Linked DNA regions of Homo sapiens. The protein of the gene in region 3 purifies or fractionates together with the protein of the main gene of each other region. This does not show direct contact. Each region holds a gene or a part of one and is shown on either strand. Other genes may lie near its edges.

Region 1 (5,739 bases), on a different chromosome or scaffold from region 3:
GTCCAGGCTCTTCCCTCCCTTCCCACCTCTCACAGAGCCAGCTCCTGGCCGTTTGATGTTCTTGATTAAGTCATAACCGCCCCCTGTGAGCTTCCCATGGGGCAGAGGAAGTGGGTATAACGGTTTGGAGCAGAAGGCCAAGGCCAAGGTCAAGCCAGAATCAGGGGTGCCAGCTGGCCCCAGATGCTCCGAATCTGAAACAACACTCAGAACTTGGGGCTGCTCAGCCATGGGTTGAGGGAGGACTGTCTGGTCCTTAGGGGAACAGGTTTGGGTCCCCAGGGTGGAAGGGGATGGCCGGTGGGAGCTTCCAGGCTGTGGCTCTAAAGCGTGAGGCCTCAAGACAGAGGGGGCCGCCCCCACATAGCGGAAACTTCAGAGGAGCCCAGGGAAGCCAAAATCCTGCCCCAGTCCCCCTACTGTGGGAAACTTGTGCCCTGACTGCTCACCCACTGCCAGAGATAGCACATGGCTGACCTCTCACCCCTATCCTCCCTGGGCTGGGATGGGAGGGAGGGATCAGCAGGCACTTCTTCTAACCATCCCGCCCCCGACCCCCAAACTTACTGCTGGCTGGCACAGGCTCCCACCTTTCGGCCCAGATGCCTCCCCTTCATGGGCAAACCCCTCTGTAGCATTCATCACCCTCCCAGCAACCCCGCCACTCACCCAATCCAGCCACCTTCCTGAGACCCTGCTATGTACCAGACAGGATAGGGAGGAGAAAGAAGTGCAAATGTGCTGGAACAGTCCCCTCCCACCCCTCCAATGGTGCCTTTGCTCTCCCTGTGGCTGGTGTCTCTTCCTTCACTCCCAGTTGCAGACATCCCCAAAGCCACCCAGACCCCTTCTTCCCAGTCACTGCAGCCATTGGTTCATTATCCCTTGACCGCTGGATCCTCCACCCCAGCACATCTGGTACAGACTGACTTTCCTAAAGTGCTGCTCTGTTGTGTCACTCCTCTCCTCAGAAACCTTCAGTGGCTCCCACTTTCTGCAAATCAGATCCAAAGTTCTTATCCTGTCATTCAAGGCCCTCCGTAAGCTGATCCCACCTACTATTCCCACTGCATATCCCCACACGTTCCCAAACTTCAGCCAGAATGAGCAACCTAGAGGTTTCTCGAGAATTCTCAGGACAGGTTGACCTCCCTGCCTCTGCCTAGGCATTTTCCTCTCCTCAAGACACTATCTTCATTCTGGCTGCCGAAATCTTCCCAGTCTGTAAGGCCCTGAAGATCCCTCTAATCCTTTTTTCATTTATCTTCCATCAGAGTCCCTGGTATTCTTGTGTAAGCCCCTTCCCGGATGGTAAGCAACCTGAGGGTGCAGGCCTTATGTGGTCGCTTGTCATTCATCGAGCAGGAAGTGGGGGTGGTGGTGGGGAGGGCTTTCCATTAAGGCTCACTAGGTAGGCTCTGTTGAAATGAACGTCTCCTCCTCCCCACCTCAGGCACCACCTACCAGACCCTCTCCCTCCCCACCATACCAAACTCCAATTTATGCCACTTCAGTGCTTGAAGAGACTGTGGTCCCATGTTGATCCAAGCCAAACCAGGACCAGGAGCCCAGAGAGAAAGTCCTATTCAAGTCTCACCCCCTCCAGGAAGCCTCCTTACCCCCACCCCCTGCCCTGGCTTCTCAAGTGTCTCACTCTTCTGAACACCTCCCCCTGCCCTACATACACACACAGTCTCCTGCACACAGCGCAGCCGCCAGTCCGTCTCTGTCCCACAGCACTTTCCAGTTTGTTCCATACTGTACAGCTTATCTCCCAGAAGATGCAGGGAGCCAATATAATGCAGCACCTTCAGCGTCCTTCAGTGTCCAACCCTGCTTAGATATCGGGTGCCCACATTGCCCCTCGCCCCCATCCCAAGCCAAGTGTGCAATGGTATAGCTGGATTCCAGCCACCAGGGCAGAACAGACCCATGAAATCTCATCTGGTTATAAGCCCTGGGTGTGACTGATCCTCTCTACAGGGACATGGTAGGGATGGGGGAGCCCTCATTGTCAGCAACTCAGGCCTGGCTAGTTCACCTCTGTATCCTCTAGCTCTCTCTAGCATATAGTAGGTGCTCAGTAAACATTTTTAGACTTATTTAACTCAACACTTACCAACCTCAAGCAACATTACAGAAAACTCAGCCACTCTTTGTTCCAGATGACACAGTCCTCATCCCTCAAATAGAGTGATGTTGGTGGCAGGTGGCAATTTCTGGCTTTCACAAGGTCAGGAGGGGCTGTAGCCAACCCCATCTCTCCAAGAAAAAAAAAAGGCTCATTCCCCATAGGAAGCAAGCCCATCACCTGCCCACCCGCATCAAAGCAGCTGTCACAGAGGGAGGTCTCACTGGTTTCCTGGCACCTTGCTAAGTAGTGTATACACATTATTCTATTTAGTGCTTGCTCCTGCTATTGGATATTGTCATTATCCCCATTTTACAGGTGAGGAAACTGAAGTTTGGAGGGGGAATGGAATCCAAATCAGTTTGATCCCAAAGCCCAAGCCTTGACCACAGAACTATGCTGCCCCGCTACTGGGGCCCAGCACAGAGCACCCACCACCTCCAGGAACAGAACCCGTCAGCCAAGAAATTAACCCCGGGTATGCTTCAAGGGCCCCTGGGGCCCTGGGCTTGACCCTGGGCCCAAGGATTGGTGGGGTTTTCCCTTCTCTTCCCCACTCACCAGTGTAAGAACTGTTCCCCAGTTTCCAACCTCCTGCTCAGGCCAGCTCACCTGGAAAAGCCCCACTGAGTTTCCAACTTGAAGTCTTAGGGGGTCCGGCTCAGTTGAACTGTTAGAATTGGTGGGAAGCAGGTGAGGCGGGAAATGGAACCTCCCTGCTTTGGCCTCCTCTTCCCCAGGGTTGGTGGGTTCGAGCCCCAACCGAGGAAACAGTGCACTCTTTAAAGCAATTCGCTTCTCTCAGTCCCATTTTGCAGGGAGAGAAACTGCAGAGGGCAACGCGATGGGAACACCTGTGGCGACCTGCAGCCTGCTCTCACCTGCCAGCTCTCACCTTCCGGCGTTTTAAGTGAGAAAGGGCAACGGGAGCGTGGAATTCACCTGGTTCACTTCCTCCTGCTGGAACCCGGGAGGTCCAGAGCCAGGTAGAGGGACGGACCCAGGATCACGCAGCTGTGCACGGCCGAGTGTGAGAACTGGGGGTTCAGGACTGGTGGCTAAAGCTCCTTTTCACCCACCAGCTGCCCCGACCTGTCACTAGTTCCGAGGAAAGTTGTCCGAGCCGGACCGCAGAAGCGGGGGCTAAAACTAACTTTGCCTATGGTTGTCCGGCAGGCTACCCCGGCCCGCTGCCCCCTTGCTCACCTGCGGGTTCTGCTTTCTGCTCCGCGCTGCAGGCCCAGCGTCACCCGCTCGTGCCTCAGTCGGCGTCGGACTGCACAGCCCGGGGCTCAGTCACTCCTCGGCCCCCTCCCGGCTGCAGCCGGGGAACGCCGCGGACTCGGCAGGCCCCGCCCCCAGAAGACACGCCCCCTCCGCCGGCCCCGCCCCCGAGCCCTTTGGGAAGGCGGTGCGCTCCCGCCGGCCAGGCCCCGCCCACTATGGCCGTACCCCAACCAGCCTCGCCCCCGGGCCCAGCTGGAGCTGAGGCCCCGCCCCGCTACGGAGTCTCTCCTCTATCCCGGCAGCCCCGCCCCCAGGTTACACTGGGGATTAAGCCCGCCCCGCTCCAGCCCTGTCCACTCACGGCGCTGCCTAACGGTCCCGCCCAGCTCCCGCCTACCTCGTCCTCCCGGTCTCCTCCCGGGCCCTCCCAGCGCCCCCGCCTCCTTCACTTTCTCCTTCGAGCCCACCCCATCCCCCGGCCCTAGTAGGGTGAGGCCACGCCCCTCCCCGCACCAGCCTGGGCTCAGCGCCTTCCTAATCCTGCCCTGCCCTGCCCCTCTCATCTCGGGCGGGTAGCCCTGGGGCCCCCACGCTGGCATTCCAGGGCGGGTGTATCCGGGTGCCGCCGGGGAACGGCGTGGGAGCGGTTTGTGTCCTAAGTCGGGGCCTCTATCAGGAGGCGGCCTGGGCCCAGGAACTTTTTGAAAATACTGACTACCATTGATTGAATCCTTGCCAGGGGCCAGGCTCTATGCCAAGCGCTGAATACAGTTCTAGCCCTTGAATTCCCACAACTCATGGGTACTCTCGTTGCGCCTATTTTACTAATGCGCAGTTTAAGGCTCAGAGAAGGGAAGTCGAGGGCTCTGAATCTCATGGAGGCGGGCGTGAGCGGGATCCAGCCTCAGGTCCTGAGTCACAGGCTTGAGCTGCCCCAGCTTGCCTGGACTGGCCCCTGGGGAAGTAGCCCAGAACAACCAGTGCTGGGGCAGTGCCCAGCAGCTGCCTGAGGTGAGGGAGGAGGTGTGGGTTGATGAGAATAGTGGCAGGAGGGGCTGTGGGCCTAAGCCCTCAAAGCTGGCTTTCTCCCTGAAGAAAAAGTGGCCCAAAATTGAGGTGGGCTGCAAGAGCTCTCTAGGTGGCTGCGGTGCCCACCCTGCGTCCCAGCCCTCTGCCCTCCCAGGCTCCAGAGGACTAGCCTCAGGCAGATTACCTGGTTAATGACCAGGGGCATTCACCTGTGCAGCTGACAAAGCTCTTTCACTTCCATTATCACAATGTCCTCTCACAACACACCGTTGTGGGAGGGTATGATTATGAGCGCTTTGTACGAGTGGAGTAAGGGCGGGAGCTGGATCCCAGCCCAGCACTGTAGTTCTCACAGCGTGGTCCTTGAACCAGGAGCAACATCATCTGGGAACTTGTTAGGAGTGCGTATTTTGAAGCCCCATCCCAACTTACTGAATGGAAAACTGTGGGACAATTGGTTTTAATAAGGCCTCCAGGTGATTCTGAATCACATTCAAGCATGAACCACTGTTGAGCAAACTGTAAAGAAGTCAGGGTGGTCTGAGAATCACACAGACCTAGGTAGCTTCCTGGTTGCGTTTTAAACCCAGGACAAGGCAAGATACTTAACCTCTGGGATGAGCCCTTAAACAGGGAATAATAATAAAATGAGCCATAACAATCATACCGATCTTGATGGTAGCTGTTGAAGATTACATGTGACAGCATTCATAAAGTATTTGGCCCACCGCTTGAATGCCGTACATGCTCAGAAAATGTTCTCTTTTCAGCAAAAAGTCTCCTTCATAGCATTCCCACACCAAGTCAGAAAAGTGAGGCTGGAGAATCCTTTAAACCCAGCAGTGTGTCATACCCGCAGAGAGACACCCTCTATCCTGCAAGTGGTTAAGATCCTAACAAGCTCCTAGATGATGTGGATGCTGGTCCGGGGACCACACTTTGAGAACCACTGTGCCATTCTGTCTTGGGCTGGGTTTCAGATCCCTACCCTACCCAGCCCATGCAAAATGGGCATAAAATTCCTCCTATTCCACCCTACTCCACACCCCGCTCCCTCCGAGCTGGGGGTGTTTGTGATGGTGTATGGCAGATGCTCCTGACAGCAATAACTTGACTTAAGCATACCCTGAGAATGGTCCTGTATGGCAGATGCACCCCAATGTGTGTTTGGAGTTTTGAGCTAAGGAATCCGGGAATGACCAACCTGGAGATTCATTCCTTATCTGTGAGGAACATTTGAACCCCGGCCCATCCTGTGGAATGCAGGGTGTACAGGGGTTCAAAGCTCTTTGTTTGGGGCCAAATGAAGGTTATCAGGTGGGGGTTGTTAGGGGGAGGGTGCTAAGTGAGAG
Region 2 (4,950 bases), on a different chromosome or scaffold from region 3:
TGTAATCCCAGCACTTTGGGAGGCCGAGGTGGGTGGATCACCTGAGGTCAGGAGTTCAAGACCAGCCTGACCAACACGGTGAAACCCTGTCTCTACGAAAAATACAAAATTAGCTGGGCGTGGTGGCACATGCCTATAATCCCAGCTACTTGGGAGGCTGAGGCAGGAGAATTGCTTCAATCTGGGAGGTGGAGGTTGCAGTGAGCTGAGATCGCGCCGTTGCACTCCAGCCTGGGCAACAAGAATGAAACTCCATCTCAAAAAACAAAAAACAAAAAGCAAAACAACCGTGATGTCAACAGCTCCATTTTACAGATGAGGAAACTGTGGTCCCGAGAGGTCACAGAGTAACTTGCTTGAAGTCTCAATATGAGCTGGGTTTTCTCATTTCTTTTTTTTTGATACTGAGTCTCACTCTATTGCCCAGGCTGGAGTGCAGTGGCGTGATCTCGGCTCACTGCAACCTCCGCCTCCTGGGTTCAAGTGATTCTTCTCCTGCCTCAGCCTCCCAAGTAGCTTGGACTACAGGTGTGCACCACCACACCCAGCTAATTTTTGTATTTTTAGTAGAGATGGGGTTTCACCATGTTGGCCAGGCTGGTCTTGAACTCCTGACCTCAAGTGATCCGCCCGCCTCGGCCTCCCAAAGTGCTGGGATTACAGGCGTGAGCCACTGTGCCGGACCAGGTTTTCTCATTTCTAATTTAGACAATATGTTCCTCTCAGAGGTGATTAAAATGGATTCATATACCAAACAAGCCTGGCCCACAGTGGAACTAATGAATGTTTTCAGTGAAGGTGCCCTTGTATCCCTGCCTCTGAACACATCTCATCTGTCCAGCACAGCCTGGGCACATAGCAGGTACCCCGGAACCCCCGCTGATTGGTGATGGAGCTTCTGTCTCCCTAAGGCCAGGGAATGGGAAGACCAGCACTACCACATGCAGAAGATTGGGGAGTCACTGCTTGTGTCTGTCTGGACAGATCACGGTTTGCTGTGGTAACAGCAATCCCCAGGTCTCAGAGGCTTAAAGCAACAGAGGTTTATTTCTTGTTCACACTGCATGTTCATCACTTATCTGCTTTATGTTGTCCTCACTGGGGGGACCCATAGTGATTAGTGGGAACACCCCTGGTGGCTTGGACAGAGGGACAGAGAACATGATGATCCCTGTGTCCTGCCACTGAGTCCTGGTGGCCTTTAAGATGCCTATGGGAAGGGGATTAGGTTCCTGCTGCCTGTCTCTGCCCTGCCGTGTCAGTCCTTGGATATCTTGCATGTTCCATCCGCTACCTGGATGTGGCCTGTAGGGGCAGCCACCTTTCCTAGAAGCAGGAGCAGGTAGCGATACCCAGGCAGGCCTGGTCCTCCCCACTTTTGTGGGACTCGGGGATTGAGCTTGCAGGCATAGGGGTGTAGAAAGCAGTGGTAGCGAGGTGACTGAAGGTGGACTCCCACTGGGGATGGGATTGAGTGTGGGGCTAGATCCCTGGTCTGTAGAAGGGAGTAGGAACCCTGTTAGTTAAATTTTCCCCCTCAGGCCACGTTAGTAGGATTTTGAAGAGTCAGCCACACTGTGGCTCTTGATTTTGTGCCTGGTCACCTGCTTGGTCTCTGGTGATTTCCCTCGGGGCCAGCAGACACTGTTGGAGGTGGTGAGGCCTCAGGTTCTTCTGCTTCATGGTTAACTCACTCTGCTTAGGCATATTTCCACCTTTTCCAGGGCCTCCGTTTTTCTGCCAGTGGATTGAGAGGTGGTGGTGGTCTCCAGCAGTGGTCTCACTCTTGGCAGGCTATCAGAGTACCCAGGGAGCTGCGTAGAATGAAGTTTTGAGAGTCTTTGGTCTAGGTGAATGCCAGCGTTTCAGTTTGCTTATCTTCCATTATAGTAGTGTCCTCTGTAACTGTGAATCAGGGAGGTTATTCATAATATCTCCACATCCATTTTCTCCCTTAATTGCGTATGCTTTTGATTTAGACAGGGCAAGTAGCCATTTTGGTGGAGCGCAGGCCCTGGCAGGGGGGCAGTGTCCAGTGCCGCTCTCAATTAAACGTGAAGATGTGAAGATGAATAACACTGTCCAGCTTGCAGAGTGGACGGTGGTGAGGCAAGCTTTCAAGTTGCACCTACTTTCTAGTTGAGTGACCTACACAAGTCTTTGATTTTTTTTTTTTTTCTTCCTGGAAAAAAAAAGTTGTCTACTTTTCTCATCTGTAAAGTGAGAAGAATCAAGTCTGCCTTTTCTGTCTCACGGGGTTGCAGTGAAGCATTAGTACCCTGAGAAGCAAGATCCAAAGCCCCTGAGTTAGGCCTGACACTGGTGTGAGACAGCTGCCATCTCTGGCGGCACTCAGCAAGTGTTCACCAGCAGCTGATTCTGGGAACCTCACTTCCTCCGCCCTTGGGCTTGGTGGGGTTGGGTAGGGTTGGGTGGGGCTGTGGTTTTCTTTTAGGAGGCAGCAGGCCAGGCCTGGAGACCAGAGCTTAAGTGGGCCTGGGCAGGCTGGGGTTGAAACTCTTCACCCCTTGCGGTCTGTACTGCCTCCCAACTGAGCAGCCAGGGAGAAGGCCTAGAGCCTGTGCCTTTCAGCTAGATAGCTGGAGGAACTGGCTCCTCCCTCCTTAGGCTGTGCTGGCCTGAGCTGGGAGCCTGAGAGCTGGGGCAGTTGTCTCTAAAGTGGCTTCTGGGATTCTGGTAAGAGGTGAGCTCCTGGTGCTGCCTCAGAGTCTTTGTGTTTCCTGGCATTTGGGAGAGCTGGAGTTGGGCTGTCCTGCATGGGTAAGGTTTGGGGAGGGACTGGAACAAGGGGCTAGTGAACCTTCTCTGGGTTTTTCCTGCCTGACTATGCGTTGACAGTCCCAGCTGTTGGGCCTGTGCTCCTGTACACTGCACGGCCTTGAGAGGAGTTCGGAGCCCTAACATCCAGGAGAGAGGCCCCACAGCAGTGGAAGGAAATGGGCCTCTCCCGAATCTCTTGTTTGTACCCCGAGGTCTGAGTGGTGATCCTGGGGATGCTATGGGACTCTCAGCAGTAGGAGTGTGTCTGTCCCCAGTCTGGGTGCCCACCAGCTGTGCTGAGGGTCCTCTCCTGTGTCCCTGGGCCAGGCAGACAGGGTCTTTTTCTGGGGCTTGTTAGGGGAGGTCAGCCACAGCCCCAGACCAAGTAATTTACACACCCTGAGTGAGGGGTGGGAGCAGTGGGTCCAGGAAGACTTAGGGAGCTGGTGAAAGAAAAACTTAATTCTGACACTTGTTAAACTGGTAAGGTAGACTGTATCAGGACTATTACGATAGATGTAGGAATTATCGCAATGGATTTTGCAGTAGAGGGGAGAGAGTGGGCCAACTCCAAATACAACAAAGAAAAGTGGGAACTTATAGCCAAGGAGCGGAGTGTGGGGGCTCCTGAAAATTTCTAAGAGGGTAGGGAAATTTTTACTAAACTTAGCTAACTGAATTCTTGCTGCAGGCAGGCCAGGGTGATCAGGTTTTACCTGGGAGATAGTACAGGATGAGAAATACGTTCAGATATCCAGGGTGATTAGATATTGAGGTTGGGGGATTCTGGTTAACAGGAGTTTTGCTAAAACTAGGCTCTTAGAGAGAATGGAGTTAGGAACCCTAGGTCAGGACCAGATGAGTAGAGGGCTCAGAGGAATAAAGTTTGGTGAGGGACAGAATCTCTGTCAGTATCCCGTGGTTGGCAGTGTCCTGTCCATTCTTCTTGCACTGGCCTGTCCCTCAGGAGACAGGTGTGAGTGGTCCTGAGCTTGGGCCAGTGTAAGAGTAGGGGACAGGTTTCTCTCCTTGTAGGTGTCCCTTCTTGTAAGTGTCACTCTCTTTTTTTCCAGAAACCTTGGTCCTTTTCAGCATCTGCTGGCCCCTTGTCCCTTGGCTCCCTTGCTCTTGGCCTGCTGGATTTCCCCTCTGCACCCAGGAAATCGCATGGACCTGGGTCCTTGTTTCCCTACAGCCCACCAATTTTGCTGCTTTTTTCTGCCCCCTGAAGCTGAGCTCCTGCTGCAATTTGTGTTCCCTGCTCTCCCTGTCCTGGGCAAACCAGTCTGACAACTTTGTGGTTCTCGCTCCCGCCTCCATCAGCCTGGGGATTGACTGTCCCATTTGTCTGAGCTGGGCAGAGGGAGGTGCTGTGGGGGATCTCTTCCTCTTGCCTGGACTGCACACTCCTGCTGCCTTCTAGCCGGAGCTCCTGGGCATTTTGCCTATGGGAGCTTCACCAGCTTCCTTCTGTCTGAGGCCTACAAGTCCCTGCCTCCAGCCTACCTTGTTCCTCCTCCATGAGTGAGGCTCCTCCTTTTCTCTCTGGCCCTCCTGTCTACTTGATCAGACTCTGCCTCTCTTGAGGGCCGGCTCCCTCCAGCCTACCCTGCACAGGTGACCCTGTTTGGCCTGCCTCCTTTTCTTGAGGCTGATCTTGTCTCAACAGTCAGCTTTTCAGGAACCAGGCCCTTGCTGTTGTAAGGAAAACCTGTCGGCTGTGGATGGGGCCTTCCCTCCTTCCTAAAGGCTCTGTAGCCAGCTTCCACCCTTGCAGTGGAACAGTGGTGGTGCCAGAACCCTGCTCTCTGCAGCCATCCTGCCTACCACAGTCATTGTGTTTTGTAACTCTAGTAGCTTCTTGTGAAATACAAGTGATGGTATAAACGTGGATAGGTTTTTGAGGGGGGCATGCCAAAATCAGAGTTGGTGGTAGTGGTGGGGGATTCATTCCCAAGGGCTCTGGGGTGCTAAGTGTGTGAGCAAAGAGGAACAAGTGGCATGTGCCCAGGATGGGGTGGGGCGGGCAGGTTTAGTTGAGGGCTCCTCTGGTGTAGGGTAGCCCTGACGCTCCCCTCCATGGCATGACTGATGAGGTGGCAAAGGCAGGTGCCAGGATTTGGTGTGTTGAAGATTAGTGCCTGGGTTGGGCTCTGCTCACTCCTGCAG
Region 3 (4,950 bases):
GAGCGGTACAGAAAGACAGGAGATATGTTTAGAGAACAGGATGCTTGAAATTGAGACTGTGGAGGGGTTTCAGTTATCAGAAGGGAGACGGTCTAATGTAGCATATAAGCATGTAAGTGTAGGACCAAATAGGATAGAGGACATGATGACTACAGAGAGGAGGACAAGCAACTAAGAATGACAGGATTAACTGTATTAGAGTTCGCCACCTTGGCTGCACATGAAAATCACTGTGGGAGCATTTAAAAATTCCAGTGCCCAGAATGCATATACTTCAGACCAACTAAAATAGAATTTCTGGTGGAACCCGCCTGATCTCGTCTGATCTTGGAAGCTAAGCAGGGTCAGGCCTGGTTAGTATCTGGATGGGAGAATTTCTGGTGGGACAAAGCACCAGCATTTTTTTTAAGTTCCTAGGGGGCTTCCAATTGTGACCCAGTGCTCTACACAGATACTGAAGTTAGCAAGATGGGAGCAGTGTCAGACAGAGTGGCCGTGAAACAAACGCTAACATCTTCAAAGAATGAACGGAGGACCTAGGAGGCAACAGGCAATAGTAACAAGAAGAGGTGGTATGGTGTGATGATGACACGAGATTCGAAGCTAGATATTTTTAGGAGTGAGCGAAAACGACCTGGAAGCTGCAGGGAGGATCAAGAAGGGCACCTGCCCCACACCTCTAGGCCCAGTTATGAGAAGTGTGGGAAGAAAATGGGCATCACTTAGTTGGGCTCTGGGGGAAACTGTCCTCAGAGAGGTAACGGTTTCTCCAGGGGAAAGAGTGTCCTCAGAGTCACCATGTTTAATGCAAGAAAGAGAAAAGAAACATTCAGAGGTAAAGTTCAGGAAACAAGAGACTTGGCTGATTGACAGTGAGTTGGAGAGGGACCTCTCTGGGGCTTGGGGACAGAGGAGGGGTGATAGTGAGTCCAAAGAGCATGTGCAACGGGTCGCATGGCGATCAATGTCCAGGACACACATTCCTAGTGTAAGTGATAACCTGCAGAGGGTGACTGTGCATCAACACACAGCGGCACGACTTAAGCAAAGACAAAACAAAAATGAATAACAAGAAAAAAGTTCCTACCTTCTAATGCCCAAAATATGTTAACAGGCTTGGAGAAGACATCCTTGCTTTTCACCCAGCTGTTGTTCCGCTGTTTGGTCCAGGCAGACACAACACAGTAATAATTGCCTCTGTCTTCCTCTGTAGTCCTTTGGATCCGGAAATTGAACGTGTCTGTATGTTCCTTAGAAAAAATAAAGTCTCCATCCTGGGCCCGCTGCTTGCTCCTCTCTCCATATTTTAGCGTCCAGTCCCCGTCCATGACTGCAAGCAGCTCGCTGGTCACCACATTGTCGCTGCGCCGGTTCATCCTGTAGTACCACGAAACCGTGAATCGGACATTCGCCTCCCCACTCTTCGTGTCCACCACCCGGCATGCCAGCTCTGTGGGGTCATCCGCAAACCCGGGGACCTTGGAAGCATTCAGGTACACCTGGTAGTCTGGTTCTGAACGAGAGACAGAAAGGCCAGGATAGGAAAATAATTAGAGTAACATGGCAAGAATTAACAAAAGGAATGAGACAAGGACTGCTCTTGTTTTAACAATTAAATGCTTCTCCTGCCGGACTAGAGAGACAGAAATCAGTCGTTGCATTGGATAGGATCCTAGAACAGTGTTTTTGCAAAACTTGTAAAACACCGCTTCTCATACCTCCCACCCCAAGAAAACCTCCCAAGAACAGAAGCCCAATGTCCTCGGCCAGAATCTTGATCCTTCCATGGCACTGGGGTCTGCTGTCAGTTTCCCCAAGAGGTTAAGGTCTTCTGAGAAGAATCTCTTAAGAAGCTCAGTGTCCACCCCCTACCAAGATTGCTCTGGAATGCCAAGTAAGCCCACAGACCTCCAACACCCCCACTGGAACAGTATCGGAAAACCCCACCCAACAGTAAATTCCAGAACTCGAGGCCCATCAGTGGCACAGTGGCTCAGCTTCCTGTCATCCTTGGCCATGCCCTAAATGCAAGGCCCTCAGGTCATCATTCCCCCTACATATTTATGTCCTCACTTTACCGTTCCTCTGACTTTTTCTGCGGAATCTGTGTTCAGTGGTCAATAAGCACTCCCATCCTCAAACTCTCCCACAGACATTCTCGCTACTGCCACATGTAACTCACCTGTGTCACTGTGAATCTTGCCCTAGTGAGCACCCCATGTCCCTGCAGAGAAGGGTGGGAGGGAAGCCAGCATTCTCCTAGCATCCCCTTGCCTCTGCCACGGTCCTGTTTCCACTGGGAGAAAAACCCCTCCTTCCTCTGGGGTTCACTGCATCAATTTAATCCATTTCTGCACCTCCATGGTTCTGTCCTCCTTTGCCCCAAGGCTTCCTCCATACCTGCCAAGGAGCTGATGTTGGAATCCTCTTGTGGCTTCCTCTCCTTTCCCCCAGCTCCTCTACACCTGATTACTCGAGGTTCTCCAGTCTCCACACAGTCTCACGCCACTGTGATGATGTGAGATGCACTACAAACTTCCACTTATTCTTCAATGTCACCTGGTCCTGGGTCCCCAGAAGGGATATACTCTGTGCTCCCATAAGCCATCTATGCACTTTTGTATGCCAGTTAGCCCACTCCACAATGACTCTTTGCTTATAGTCTCATCCTCAAGCTCCAAATACACTGCCTTTTATGCAGTAGGCACTCAGTAAATGTTTACTGCCTGAATGTTCAGGCTTTTAGAAAAGGCTACATTTTTCTTCTTCTTCTTCTTTTGTTTTTTTTTTGGACAGTCTTACTGTCCCCAAGTGGAGTGCAGTGGCGCGATCTCAGTTCACTGCAACTGCCTCCCAGGTTCCAGCGTTTCTCATGCTTCAGCCAACCAAATAGCTGGGAATTCAGGAACATACCACCACACCCAGCTCATTTTTGCATTTTTTTAGTAGAGACAGGGTTTTGCCATGTTGGACAGGCTGGTCTCAAACTCCTGACCTCAAGTGATCTGCCCACCTCAGCCTCCCAAAGTGCTGGGATTACAGGAACGAGCCACCGCACCCGGCCTATAAAGGGCTACGTTTTTCTTCCATAGCACTTTGCCTTCTGGGAGAAAAATAATACTACCTAAACAGAACTCTCCATTTATCAACATTATCTTTATCTGCATCACCTTGATCAAAGTTTGGTTTTATTTAACATTGTTTTCATTTATGACATACAGATTACAAACTGCTGAGGTCAAGGAACTTTTCTTGTGATTTACACTTCTAATGGAATTTATAACATCATGATTTCTCCAAGAATGATTCAGTGGACCAGAAAATGCAAAGAACTCAAAATCCTAATTCCTCAAATGTCATCTTCACAAGTATTTAATTGCTTGTGCCCATCCATGGGAGTACATCGTACTGTGATGTGGACACCATAGAGAAATCCACAGGCTGTGGGACTGCCAGGGCTAGAGAGGAATCCACTGGCCATTCTGACTGCTCATTTTACAGGCTCATATGCTGTCACACTGCTAGGGGATGTCCTGAACCTGAGCATGGTGCTAATACACCACACCACACATCACCCTAGCAAAAACTGACTGAAGGACACACACCACCCAACTGTGTTTACACCATCATATGCAAAAGATAAGGAATGCTCAAATTACTCCACATCTAAACTTTCATGTCGAATTCAGGATGCAGCAATGTGGGTGCAGAGCAGGACAACTAAGTCCATCTCATGTGGAAAGGGCAGATTTGCACCAGCTGTGCATAGGGTAAGACTGCCCCAGAACACTGAGCATCAACTATCTGTAGGCAGCAGCCAGCAGTGGCTCTTACATGGAGCCTCAAGTCCATTTCAAGCACAACACATAAGACCCTTCCTGTGTGGCATGAGACTGTGTGGGGACTGGAGAACCATAACCCTGAACAGCAAACTGTGAGGCAGCAGAGAACAGTGGTGAGGAGCTGAGGTCTGGAGCCAGACTGTGTTCAAATCCTGGTTCTGCCACTTACTTGCTATTGACCTTGGGTAGATTACTCAGATCTCTGGTGCCTCACCCATACAAATGGGGATGACAGTAACTAGCTCATAATGTTATTGTGAGGGTTAAGAGTTAAAATATACTGTACTTAAAATGCCTAGACTGGTGCCTGGTGTGTGTGTGTATGCAGGTACACACATATTCATATACACATACACGTGTATATATTTGTGATCATTATTCACAGTTCCCATTTCTGAGGGGAGAGCTTTAAAGAAGTTAGTGACTTGGCCACACAGTTCAAAAGTGGCAGATGGGAACGGAGCCCTGTCTTCTACCACCTTTCAAGTGCATCCTTAGCTCACAGATGAACCAAACCTACTGTCTTCTAAACTTCATATTTTCTAAGTTCCACTGACTGACACATGATTTTTAGGAACGCTGAGTGCAGTGCTGCCATGACACTAAGTTACTGCCACAGGGAATGTGACCCAGAAGACAGCTCCCTGCAGGCCCTCGCCTCAGCCTGACTGACCAGTGTGATCCAAAACACCATGAAGTTGCCTGTGGGGACTCCTCTTCTGTCTCCTCACAGGTGACAGACCCTTTGATCCTTAATGGTTTACTTCCACCCCCGTGCAGATTCTTTCAGAGTGGCACCTTTTCAAAGGCTGTCAAAATTATGATGAAAGATGGTAGATGTTCATTGCAGCATTATTCACAAGGGCCAAGATATGGAATCAACCCGTGTCCATCAACAGATGAATGGATTAAAAAAATATGGTATATATACACAATAGACTACTATTCAGCCATAAAAAAAAAAGAACAAAATCCTGCCATTTGCGACAACACAGATGAACCTGGAGGACAGTGTTAAGTGAAATAAGCCAGGCACAGAAAGACAAATACCACATAATGTCACTCGCATGTGGGAGGTCAAAAAGCTGAGCTCATAGAAACAGAGAGT
Region 4 (5,195 bases), on a different chromosome or scaffold from region 3:
AGGTTTATTACTCCCTGGGAGAAGGAAGAGGAAGAACAAAGGAAATGCACTTCTTTAAGTACTTCATGATGCAAAATATTTTTAAATTCCTGAGTTCACATTTAAAAACTGTATATTTTTAAATTATAGGAGCAATGATGTTAGTGGTAACCAGCCCAACAACAGAAATAAAGAGAAATTTAATAAGCTTCCCCTAAAGTCTACCTTCTACACATTGAAGAAACTTCCTCCAAGTTTTTGAGTTTTATAGACAAAGCATCCTTTTACTTCTGAGCTGTCATTTTTTTTTCCTTTGTTGGCTTATAGTTTGCAACAAGCAAAGAGGGCCAATGTAGACAATAAGAAAACTCAAGAAGCAGGGATTGGCCATCTCCAATCATCACTGATAAATTTCCTTAAAATCAAAATAACGTTGTTTCAAATATCTGAGATATGAGGCAAAACGTTTCTTGAACAAGTCTGACACTATGTTGTCAGGATCTAAGTGTGCTATATGAACCTTAAAATTTGTTTTCATTTGATCTTTGAAAAAAGTATTTAATCAGTTCTAACGACGGAAGTCTTCTTCTGCAGTGATAATTCACAATGAAAGACATTTAAGCTGACGTTTCTCTAATGGGTTTTTAAGATTCCAGCTCCAAGGGACTGTGAGAAATTATTTTCTTATATAAAAGGTTGTGAATATTATCAACATTTATCTAAGCCCATAAGTCATAAATCCCACCAGGCATTAAATTTTCAAGGGAGCTTTTAAAACATAGATTACCCTGTCTCCCACTCCAGAACTGCTAGGGGTAAGGTCTGGGGAATCTGTATTTCACATGGTCCCCAAGTGATTGTAACCAGCAGATGACCTCATGGGCAGGGATTTCCTACATACGAGGCTCTGGCCTCTGTGTCTTGTCAGTCAGCATTTTTAAGTACAAAGGAACCTTTCCCTTCCCAACTACAAAATCTTACCTTTCTGTTTCCCCTCCTAGAAAACTGGATCAGAACAATGCTTCTCAAAGTGTAGTCCCCAAACAAGCCGCAAACAGCATCACCTACGATCTTATCAGAATACAAATTCTCCAGCCCCACCCCAGACCTACTAAGTTAGAAATTATGGGCACGGAGCAAATGCATTCATGTGTTTTAACAAGTCCTCCCAGTGATTCTGACACCTGCTAAAGTTTGAGAACCACTGGATTCGAAAATTTCACAATTTCAAGAAAGAAGTAATGAAGAAAGACACACCATGTAAGGTAGAACCAAGTTTATTAATGACAGCCTTTATTACAATCACTCTCAAGTGTAAAAAATAAAGGGTGATTAATTAATATTTAAAACTCACTCGGACTTGCTGTTTGGCCTTTCAGTGGATGTGCCAAAGGGCAGGGATCTTGCCTGATTCTGAATCAATTGGCCAGATGGAGTTCACTGGAGAATGAGGCAATCAACAAAAAAGACAAATGATGCCAACTGGAGAGAGCTCGTGTCTTCTCCATGTTGGAAGGACATTACAAAATGGCAACTGTGGTGGGGGCAGAGATGAAGTAAGACAACCTTACAGTCGGAGTAAGATGTGAATACCTCTACCTATACAGAGACAAAAACACACACATGCAGAGCCATACACACACCCAAACAGTGAACACAGTTTTGAAAATAATTTCCTTTTTGTCCTTTCTCTGAGCAGACTGACACATTCATCGGCCACCACCATGCACCATGGGGCTGAAATGGAAAACCTCGCTTAATTTCCACAAAGTATTCTAGCTGGCTGCCCAGTTATGTGCTGGCAAATCTGTCCGCACCGAAAAATGTGCCTGTGGTTTTCCCAGAGTTCCACAGACTGATATCTGCTCCCCAGGAGGGCAACATCCGGTGGACACCAGCTGGATTAAAATCTAGAGGGCAAAACTCGTCCCTCCCACCTAAAGTGGGGGCAGGAGCGGCAGCACCAGGAAGTGGTTTCCCACTTTGTGTTACAGAGTACTTGCCCCAGTTCAACGCATTCCCCTCCAAAGTATTTGTGCTTTGATACCATCCTGATGGTTAGTCTGCAATAAGAGAACTGAAGGAGCTATGGCCATGCACTATTTTCTTTTTTTAATAAAAGCAAACTAAAACTGGAGGAAGAAAAAGAAACCATTAGAAGCTTTTGACTGGGTCAATGTTGTTTCCAAATTGGGTTTAATTCCATTCAAAGAGAAAGAAGGGGAGGGTGCAGAAAAGGCCACTCAGATCGACTCTGGAAGAGATCATCAAGACCAGGGAAGCATTTGGATGGTACAGCTGGTCTCTTCCCAGCCAGACTGGGAGGACATGCCACAACCTCCCAAGGCTGTGAACCTAGGAAATAAGTGCTGACCAAATAACATATTTCAATGTTTGTAGAAAAGCTGGCAGGAAAGGGAGATGATGGATTCAGATTCACAGGTCATGCAGATTAAGACTTAATCAAAAATTAATGCTTGAGCTGAGTAAGAAAACACTAAAATTTAAGTGGAACTGTATCATAGCTTTCACCTTTGGAAGACGAAAAACAACAAACATACAAAACAAAATGACCCAGAATATTCCAGAGTTTCCAAAAATCCAACTGCTAATTTTGGCAGGGTGAGAAGAAGGGGATATTTAACTGATACCTCTTCATTAACCTCATTTTCTCCTTGAATTTCACTGATAAACAAAGCTCAGGTCTACTTAGAAAAACGATCAGTCCTGCTAAAATACAGCCTCATGACGTCTTCCAATGCCCTTGCTCGGTGCACATGAAATACACAACTTCTCTTATAAGGAGACTTTCCAGGATAGACCAAGTGTGCTCGCCCAAGTGACTTGCTGAATACCATCACAAAATCTGAACCCAAAGATGAGTTGTTTTCTTCTTCAGATGAGAGTTGCAAGTGTTTCCTAAAATGTACATGGAGGGATGCCCACAAACCACTGCCCTCCCAGGTGAGGGGCTGAGTCTTTGAGGAGATGCACTCCTTCAGGCCATGGAACAGAAAGAAGGTGGTCCGTCCAAGGTGTGGTGAAGAGCAAAGCTGCCTCTCCCAGCCCTCCAATTACGGAAGATGAGGACAAGAATGTATTTTCTGCACATTCAAGTACATCTGGGTCCCCTACCCTCCCTTTTTTTCTTTTTTGGTAAGCATCTAACTGTCCATAAATTCATGGCTACAGTAGAGATTCACGGCGCAACGACTTTCATACTGGTTATTTTTTTTTTTAATTCTGTCAGTGAGCAGCATTTCCCAGTTTTACACTCCCCTAATGGCAGCTCCATTAGGCGAGACTGCAGGCTGCATCTGTGATTAGGTCCATGCAGCTCGAAGATCAGTTCGGCACGCGGGAGGGTCCCGAAAGCTGGGTCTGTCCAGTGTCTTGCAGCAGCGGTTGCAGGGGGTCTACCAGCTCGCCCTGACAGCTTCGATATCGCTAACCAAATTCTGGGCCAGGCATATCCCAAATATCTGAGAAAGGAAGAAAATGTGAGTGAAACAGTGACACTTGTAACTTGTTTCCCTGGCCACTGTGTCCCATTTTTTTAAATCATTGATTTTTGAAATTTAAGATGTAATTCATATGTGGTAAAAAGCATCCTTGAAATGTGTATAATTCAGGGGCTTTTAGTATATTCACAAAGCTATGCAACTATCACCACTATCTAATCACAGAACATTTCATTACCCCAAAAAGAAACCCTGTACCTGTGAGCAGTCATTCCCATCCCACCATCCCTACAGACCTAGCAACCACTAATCTACTTCCTGCCTCTGTGGATTTGCCTCTTCTGGACATTTCATATCAAGGGAATCATATAATATGGGGCTTTTGTGGCTGTCTTTTTCATGTAGCAAAATATTTTCAAGGTTCATATACATGTGCTATTAATTTATTCCTTTTGATGGTTGAATGATATTCCATGGCATGGATATGCCCCATTTTGTTTATCTACTCCTCAGTTGATGTGTATTTGCATTGCTCTCACATTTTGGCAATTATGAATAATTCTGCTATGAACATGAGCATACAAGTTTTTGGGTAAACACTTTCTCAATTCTTTTGGGTACTCCTCTAGGAGTAGAATTGCTGACTCATATGGTAGCACTATATTTAACTTTTGAGAAACTGCTAAATTGTTTCCCAAAGAGGTTGCAACATTTTCATTTCCATTAGCAACATATGAGGGTTTCGTTTTCTCCACATCCTTGCCGATACTTGTTATTGTCTGTCTTTTTTATTCTAACCGCTTTAACGAGTATGAAATATGTGGCTTTGAATTGCATTTCCTTAATGACTACTGACGTTGGCATCTTTTCATGTGCTTATTAGCCATTTTTTTTTTTTTTTTTTGAGACGGAGTCTCGCTCTGTCGCCCAGGCCGGACTGCGGACTGCAGTGGCGCAATCTCGGCTCACTGCAAGCTCCGCTTCCCGGGTTCACGCCATTCTCCTGCCTCAGCCTCCCGAGTAGCTGGGACTACAGGCGCCCGCCACCGCGCCCGGCTAATTTTTTGTATTTTTAGTAGAGACGGGGTTTCACCTTGTTAGCCAGGATGGTCTCGATCTCCTGACCTCATGATCCACCCGCCTCGGCCTTTATTAGCAATTTTAATCTTTAGAGAAATGTCTGTTCAGATCCTCTGCCCGTATTTTTGTTTGTTTGTTTGTTTTTTAATAATTTAAGGGACTGGGTTTTGCTCTGTTGCCCAGGCTGGAGTACAGTGGCGTGATCATAGCTCAGTGCAGGCTCCTGCCTCTGCTTCCCAAGCAGCTGGGATTACAGGGACAAGTCACCATGCCTGGCTGCCCATTTTTAAGTTGTTTGTCTTTTTATTGTTGACTTTTTAAAGTTCTTTATTTTTCTAGATACTAGGAGTTATCTTTTCACTGTCTTGATGGTATCATTTTCAGCACAGTTTTAAATTTTGAAGTCCAATTTATTTACATTTGTTTCATTGCTTATGCTTTTGATGTCATATCTAAGAAGACACTGCTTAATCCAAAGTCACAAATATTTATGCCTATGTTTTCTTCTGGAGTTCTATAGCATTAGCTCTTATATTTAGGTCTTTGCTTTATTTTGAGTTAATTTTTACATATGGTGTGAGTTAGTCTAAATTCATTATTTTGCATATCTAGTTTTCCCAGTACCATTTGTTGAAATGACTGCTCTTTCCCTATTGAATGGTTTTGGTTCCCTTG

What was found.
Region 1: the proteins of PTGFRN (region 3) and CD82 purify together in Homo sapiens (affinity purification with western blotting, with the first as the bait; one study listed by BioGRID). This does not show direct contact.
Region 2: the proteins of PTGFRN (region 3) and TSPAN14 purify together in Homo sapiens (co-immunoprecipitation; one large-scale study listed by IntAct). This does not show direct contact.
Region 4: the proteins of PTGFRN (region 3) and TSPAN5 purify together in Homo sapiens (co-immunoprecipitation; one large-scale study listed by IntAct). This does not show direct contact.

Annotation. Positions count from the first base shown.
Region 1 is NC_000011.10:44,563,335-44,569,073, reverse strand, and holds the start of CD82 (CD82 antigen), read right to left. Parts: upstream 3,412-5,739; 5' UTR 3,338-3,411; exon of another isoform or gene 2,744-3,337; intron 1-2,743. UniProt on the Homo sapiens protein: Structural component of specialized membrane microdomains known as tetraspanin-enriched microdomains (TERMs), which act as platforms for receptor clustering and signaling.
Region 2 is NC_000010.11:80,456,804-80,461,753, forward strand, and holds part of TSPAN14 (tetraspanin-14), read left to right. Parts: intron 1-2,481; exon of another isoform or gene 2,482-2,781; intron 2,782-4,950. UniProt on the Homo sapiens protein: Part of TspanC8 subgroup, composed of 6 members that interact with the transmembrane metalloprotease ADAM10.
Region 3 is NC_000001.11:116,957,806-116,962,755, reverse strand, and holds part of PTGFRN (prostaglandin F2 receptor negative regulator precursor), read right to left. Parts: intron 1,514-4,950; coding exon 1,088-1,513; intron 1-1,087. UniProt on the Homo sapiens protein: Inhibits the binding of prostaglandin F2-alpha (PGF2-alpha) to its specific FP receptor, by decreasing the receptor number rather than the affinity constant. Functional coupling with the prostaglandin F2-alpha receptor seems to occur.
Region 4 is NC_000004.12:98,469,127-98,474,321, forward strand, and holds the end of TSPAN5 (tetraspanin-5), read right to left. Parts: intron 3,462-5,195; coding exon 3,396-3,461; 3' UTR 1,241-3,395; downstream 1-1,240. UniProt on the Homo sapiens protein: Part of TspanC8 subgroup, composed of 6 members that interact with the transmembrane metalloprotease ADAM10.